Homo sapiens: one gene and its partner. The protein of the gene in region 2 purifies or fractionates together with the protein of the main gene of each other region. This does not show direct contact. Each region holds a gene or a part of one and is shown on either strand. Other genes may lie near its edges.

Evidence for each region.
Region 1: the proteins of FIP1L1 (region 2) and P4HA2 purify together in Homo sapiens (co-immunoprecipitation; 3 studies listed by BioGRID and IntAct, with this or other methods). This does not show direct contact.

Annotation. Positions count from the first base shown.
Region 1 is NC_000005.10:132,203,833-132,207,485, reverse strand, and holds part of P4HA2 (prolyl 4-hydroxylase subunit alpha-2 isoform 2 precursor), read left to right. Parts: intron 1-3,333; coding exon 3,334-3,404; intron 3,405-3,638; coding exon 3,639-3,653. UniProt on the Homo sapiens protein: Catalyzes the post-translational formation of 4-hydroxyproline in -Xaa-Pro-Gly- sequences in collagens and other proteins.
Region 2 is NC_000004.12:53,391,073-53,394,725, reverse strand, and holds part of FIP1L1 (pre-mRNA 3'-end-processing factor FIP1), read right to left. Parts: coding exon 3,587-3,653; intron 3,297-3,586; coding exon 3,228-3,296; intron 1-3,227.

The DNA.
Region 1 (3,653 bases), on a different chromosome or scaffold from region 2:
ATCATAGAAGGTCACGCTGGGAACAGGGCAGGTCTACACTGGTGTGTCAGTTCACCTGGTTGGGAGACTGGTGCGTGGGTGAGTTTTTTGGAAATGTTCCATAGGATGCTATGAAGCTGGGTCCTGTGGAGCTCCTGATTAGGACTGTAAATGAGGTGAATGACTTAGAGGAGAATGTATATCTTTATAATATTGGGTCTTCTCATCCAAGGGCATGACAGGTCTCTCCATATCTTTTTAAGTTTTCTTCATATAAGCCTTGAACATTTCTTAAGTTTATTCCTTGGTAGTTTCTTTGTTACTGTTAATTTACTTTATTTCTTCATTATTATTTTTAACTGGTTACATTATTTTATTAGTTTACTATTATATGCCAAACTATTGATTTTACAAATACATTTCATAGTAAGAGCTAATGTTTACTGAATTCTTAACTGTGGCAGGAACTTCTAAGTGCTTAACATATATATTAAGTGTTATGTCACAGTTATGAACAGCTGCTCATAATGATGTCACTGTCTCTGTTTTACCTATGAAAAAGCAAACTCATACAGATTGCAGCTAGTGGTTGAATTTACTTATTTCTTTTTTGGTTTTTAGCTGATTTCTCTTTGGTTGCCTGGATAGCATTAACACCTGGAAATAAGGAAAATTTTATTTTCTCCTGATACTTGTAGTTCCTTTGTTTTTATAACCTTATTGAATTGCCCAGAACTTCTAGAGCATAATTACGTAGAATAGGCATCCTTGTCTCATTCCTGAATTTCCTGGAAATTCCTATGGTATTTTACTGCTAAGAATGCAGTTGGCTGTTGGTTTTGTATATATGCCATGTTTTAAAATTATTCTTCTGTTTCTAGTTCATAAAAGATTTGTTCCCCATTTGACATCTTTCAAAGAGACCTATTTGCTGCCATATCCCATCACTGATGATTGGGAGGGAGGATTTAGCTCGATTCTCTATTGCTCTGCTCCTAATAGAATTGTAGGGGCCGAGGTGACCAGGAGGCCCGACACTCATGGAGAGACCTGAAATAGGTTCCTATCCTGGCCCCTGGACCTCATCTTGGAACAGCTTTGGCTTGAGGTACTAGGACATCTAGGGCTTTGAGTCAGTGGTTGGCATCATCGATGTGGCTGAGGAAGGGGGCTAGCCAGATATATGGAGAATGGGGACTAGGACTCCCCTTTCTACTCAGCTCCAGAGTCCTCCAGGAAAGAAAACTACTTTGTTGGTTGTGCCAGGATTTCCTGAGAGATTTCTTACCCGTTCTTCAGTTCCAGACACTGAGAACATTTCTCTGTGCATGTGTGCATATGTGTACACATGTGTGTGGCTGGCCAGAGGGTAGTGTTAGGAAAAGATATATTTGAATAGAAGCCATGCAAAGAGCCAAACAAGGTTGGCAAACATGTTTGGCTCTTAACATGGCTTCTATTCAAAGATAAGCTGACCCCTCCTTTCCGGAGACTGTGAGGGACAGATGCTATTCTGGCTTTGAAGTAGAGCCAATGAGCTTAACTTGGCCTGTGGGGAATGCCTGGCAGCTGTCTGTGGGGTCTCTGGCCTGCTTTCAAAATAGCCCTGTGCTTCCCCTGGGGCAGAGCACAGCTGCTCAGAGCCTCTTTGTGGGTGTCAGGCCAATGCTGAGGCACAGATGTTTGGATGGGGTCTGGCTGTGGCTGCAGTTTTCAGGGAGGGACTGACATGAGCTGAAGCTCAGGAAGGGCCATGAGTAGGAGCTTGGGAGCCGTCTGTCCTGCTTGTGCTGGCCATCTTACCAGATCATGCCATAGCAGCACAGTGTCCAAGTTGGTCCATCTCACCCCCTTACTAGCCTTCTGGTCCATCTACTCCTCTCCATCCCTTCTGCCACCACCTGGCCCGGGCCACCATCATCTCTTGCCCTGACCTCTGTCGTGGCCTCACTAGCCTCCCAGTCCCCACTCTGGCCCCTCATTAGTCAACTCTCCATGAGGTATTCACAGTGATCCATTTTACATTCACATTTTGAGTGTCCCTCCCCTGCATAAAGCCTTCCCCATTTCTCGTTGGCCACAAGGTTGCATCTAGTTCCTAGCCCCTGCTTGTCTCTTCAGCCTGTTCTCTCTTACTACTTCCCATAACCTTTAATCCACACCTACTGCAACACCCATTTTCATTCCCAGGCCTCTGGATTGCTGCTCTTTCCCTGTTCCTGTAATGTTCCTCTACTTGGATAACTCATGTTAACCCTTCAGGCCTCAGCTAGGTGGTCTCCTCCCCTAGGAAGCTATTCTTGACACTATACCCTGAGCTTCCACAGGATGGTAAGTTCACCCATGCTGTGCTGCAGTTACCTGACTGGTTTTCTGCTTTCCCCACTTGACTGAGTTGTAAGAGTGCAGGGGCCATGTCTCAGTTACCTAGCATAGTGCCAGGCACAAAGTAGGCACTCATCAATATTTATTGAAATCAAGGGGAAGTGTGTTGGGGTGGGAGTACCTGGGCCTATGGCCCCACCCATGTGAGGTCATGAGGACAGTCCACAGCTGAAGCACATGGACCTTTGCCATGTTGGCTGGCTCTGGGCGGCGAGTCCCCCTTGGGGTTTCACTAAGCCTAACTGTGGAGGCTGGGGGAGATGAAGTAGATGCAGGGAGTGCATGTGTAGTGTGTACCTGTATGAGTGGGTGGCTTCCAGGCAGTGGTTCACTTATTTTAACTTACAGAATCTTTTCCTGGTTTTATCATCTGACTTGTAAGGATCCCAAGGGAGCGAAAACTGTGCCATCTGTCTTTGCTTCTTGAGGCTGTGGGAACCCAGTGTGAGGTGGTGCAGCAGGAGAGTGTTTGGATGGGTTTCTTGGCAGAGGAGCCCACTGAGGTTCGGAAGGATGGTGGAACTTGACTCAATTGAGAGAAGTACATAAGGCGGAGGCTCAGGCATGGTGGCACAGTCTGAAAATGGTGGGAGTAGCTAAGCTCAGGCAGGCTGTGCTCAGGCAGGGGTGGTATGTGGGCCTGGCAAGGAAAGGGGCTAGTCAGGCAGATGCATGGGTAGACAAGGCAGGCATAATTCTGCAGGCAAAGCGGACCTGGGGAGGAGAAGGGATGAGCAGTGACCGAGCAGGGCAATAGCCAGGAACTGATTGCGGATTGGGAATGTGGAGGCCTCAGACTCTTGCCCTCAACTGGCCTGCAGGATCTTGGGGCCTTGGCTAGAGCCATTGGCTGCAAAGCTTCCTCCACTAGCATGGCAGTAAATCTGGTCCCAGTGCTCTCTGGGAAAATATTCAAGGCAAAACAAACAAACAAACAAATCAAGTCTTCCCTCTCCTCCTTCCTTCTAGCTTGCACGAGCCACCGTTCGTGATCCCAAGACAGGAGTCCTCACTGTCGCCAGCTACCGGGTTTCCAAAAGGTAAGCAAAGAGCAGGGGTTCGTAGCTGCTCAAGCCCCAACTTCAGGACTTCTCAGTGCCTACCCTAGGGATGGGTGGCTTGCCTTTTCCTGCCTGCTGGCACCTCCTCACCCCCTTGCAGCAGGCATCCTGTACTGCCTGTTCATGCTGGCCCTGACTCTGGGGACAGAGTTCAGGACCTCATGGAAGCCTGCCCTTCCGTCTTCTTTTCTCTGCCCTTTTCTTTTTGCCCAGCTCCTGGCTAGAGGA
Region 2 (3,653 bases):
CACAATTTTGTTTCAACCTATAAGAAAAAAACTGAGAAAGCAACAAAATTTAGAACTTTGAAATTAGATTAAAAAATAGTAACTGACTGAGCAGACCAAAGAAAACTGAATCCTAAGTCAGCGATGAGAAAGCAAAGACAATGATTATCATGTCAGGACCCTCAAAAATTCAGAAATTAAAAGCTCCAGCTACCAGAACATTTGCATCAGCCAAGTATATACCCTCTAGATAGAATACTGGAATACCTTATCTGAAAAAATCTGATTACCACAAAAAGAAAAACACCTAAAAATACTGACATCAGGGAATGTGAAAAAACAGCCCTCCAGTGAAGCCTGCAGTCAAGCAAGTTCTATTCAGATGTACAGAGCTTCCAATCAATTTTAGCAGCCCACCGTTACATGAGTGAATGGCCAACAATCAACAAACATTTCAGAAAAGTCTAAGTCAGAAGATAAAAATAACTAACTTAAATAATCAAGTTGAAAACAGACTATGCAGGAAAAGAAAAATCTAACAGAAACAAAACAGCCTATCATTAATATCCTTTGAGAGAGGAGGGAAAAAGATATTGCATTACTGTAGGCATGAATAATAAGATGCTACAACTAAATAATAAAGAAAAATTTTCTTGGAAATTAACAACAGAAATGAAAACTAAGTACAATAACATTATAAGAATAAAAAATTCTCCCAGATAATGGAAAAGATGAAAAAGAGAAAAACAATAAAAAAAATTAGAAGACCATTCGAAGATATCCAATATTATCTAGAATAGAAAAGAAAGCAGAGAAAAAAGTAAAAGAAGAAAGTGTTCCATAAGTGAAGGATATGTGCTTCCAAATCGAGAATGCTTGGTACAATGGATGAAAACAGACCAAGACACATAACTGTAAAATTTCAGAAAACTGGTGACAAAGCTCATACATTCACAGCCGGGGGCGGGGGGGGGGGGGGGGGCCGGGGGGAAAATCTATGCATATGTGCACAAATGAATAAAAAATATTTTAAGAAAACGTTGTAGTCAACGTTTTCTCATACATACATGTTATCTATTCCCACTAGTCACTTCTCTCTTGCCATTCACTCTAATTAAATAATTACACAATTGTTTTTGTACCCAATTGAGTGGCTTTATTTTTATACCTATTAAATTTCTTTTATTTTGCTTTTTAAAAAAACTTTATTCATATTGAAGTACATAAAAGGCTGTTACCTCAAGAATGTCAAAACACTGTTAAGTGTTGAAGCTGTATGATAAGCACCTAAGGGTTCATGTGTACTATTCTACTTGTTACTGGGTTTGCAAATTGTTTAATGAAAAGTAAATAAAGTTATCTTAAAGAGGCTGATGGGCTGTCTCACACTTAAGGATGAAAAAATTCTATTTGCAGCAGATATGAAAATAAATTTTAATTCTTAAATCCACTCCTTTGCCCATTCATCCTCATAAGTGAGTTCAGGCCCTAGTTCATTTTAGTCCCATAGTATGGCAACAGCTCCCTATCTGTTTCACACCCCTTTCATTCTACAGCCCATCCTGCTGCCAGTTCCTTTTCTAAATACCAGATCTGCCACTTCATTCTACTGCTCAGGAACTTTCAAACAGCTTCCTATTGGCTACACAAATGTTTGCAGGTTAGTTTAAAATCAATGTCCTGCTCATCATGGCCCTATTTCCACCATTTCCTACGGACCACAATATACATAAAGAAAAAATGTTTGCCACACATATTCTTAATACACACCCTATTCCCAAATCAGTATTTCTACCAAACATATTAGTATTTAAACACACTATCAAGGCAAGAAAACCATGAAGACTGTACCCATCGAATTAAAATCTTTCATTCAGAATCCAATCAGAATGGAATACTCTATGACCTCCTCTCACATAGCCAAAAGAAACTTCAAAATAAATTTTTCAGTACACAGTATGTATATAAAATACACATTCATAACGGCTACCTTCAATGAGACTGACCCCTAGGAGTTTCTTTTTATTCTCTTTTTAAGTCTACTACAAAAAATGAAGTATACAGAAGCTAACAGTTTATGATGGCAGTTCTCATTTCTATTAAAAGAAAATAAAATGCACTGCTGCTAATGAACTAGTTCATTAAGACAACTTTTCTACCCATTGCAGTCAAGTTTAATATATTCAATGCCTATATAGACAATATAACCCAGAAAAAACTGATGACCCTTTAAAACACAACAGACATCATCACATACTTTCAAAATATTTGCAAAAGAAGAACCAAATACTTACGCAAAGTAGGATGTAAATTAAAATAAAATTATCTATATAGAACTGTGTACAGTAGAGTGGTTGTATCTGCAGACATAGCACACACACTGCATAAGGCAGTATTCTGGTGGACAGGGCTGCAAACCCAAAAGGGGAGCAGTGGTCTCTTTCCAGTCCACTAAAGTTCCCTGAGTATACAACCCAATCTAAAAGCCACTCCCAATCTTCATCCCAGTGTCATTCAATATAAGAGTCAACTATTAAGGTAAAGAAAAAAGAGTACACAATCAGTTTTCCATAAAAGAACTATGACAATATAGTATTATTCTTTGGACTGGGTCTGTGATCATACCATGGAATGGAGAAGCCAGAAATCAGACTTGTTATACAAGTTGTAGTATCAACCTCAAAGTCTCTCACATAAACCTACTCCTTTTAAGAACAAATTTTTAAAATCAATGGCAGTATCTCATTATGTTGAGTTCTTAAAGCCTCTCAGAGAATGCCTAAGATTTTTGAAGATATCTTGAGCTATCAGGGCATTACACCAATGATATCAGTGTTATAAGTGTCATAGAGATAAACAGTATGCCACCTTCCTTACCATTTTTTTAAAGAGAACAAAAAAGTTTCCAATTCTGTTGATAAAGATTAGAGTATTATCTACAATGAGAGCATAATCTGTTGCCACTAACTTTTCTATCCTACAAACATGTATTACGACTCAAAATGAAATCACAACATATAGCAAACAATAGTTTTACTCGGCATTTGTTAGTATAATAGGCTATAAATTCACATGCTTGCAAAAGTGGAGATAAAACAACAATCAGCAAATTTGTAAGTCACCAGGAAGCTGAAGGTTTGGAAAAAAGGTAGCTATTTCCACTTTAATCTTGTCCCTTGAGTAGTGGCATGGGAGCAGACTCAAGAACAAAAAATGAGAGCAACCAAGGATAATTTACTAAAATTCACCTTAAAAAGATTGAATCTGCCATCTTGGATCTCTGCACCTGGTGTAACTTCCATAGTACAGTCTTCGGCCTAAGTTAAATAACATATTCCCCATTAAGATACCACATAATATTTAATTAATAGGCCATATAAAGACAAACTAGCTGTGGCTAGTCTGTGATTTGAAAGTAAGAACATCAGATAATCATTAAATACGAAACTCTAAAAGGGAGGGAAGGGAAAAACAAACATGGTAAACAAAATGGAATTTTTAAACTATCATATAGCATTTAACCACTTTTATAGGGAAGCGATTTATTTGGGGAGTAAAAGTGGGACGGTAGACAAGCCAAGGGTATTCCGGAGTATTTATTAATTACCGTAATTTTATTTGTAGTAGAGGTTACTGGTATAACTTCAAGTCCCATTCGTATCCTCTTTTGTTTT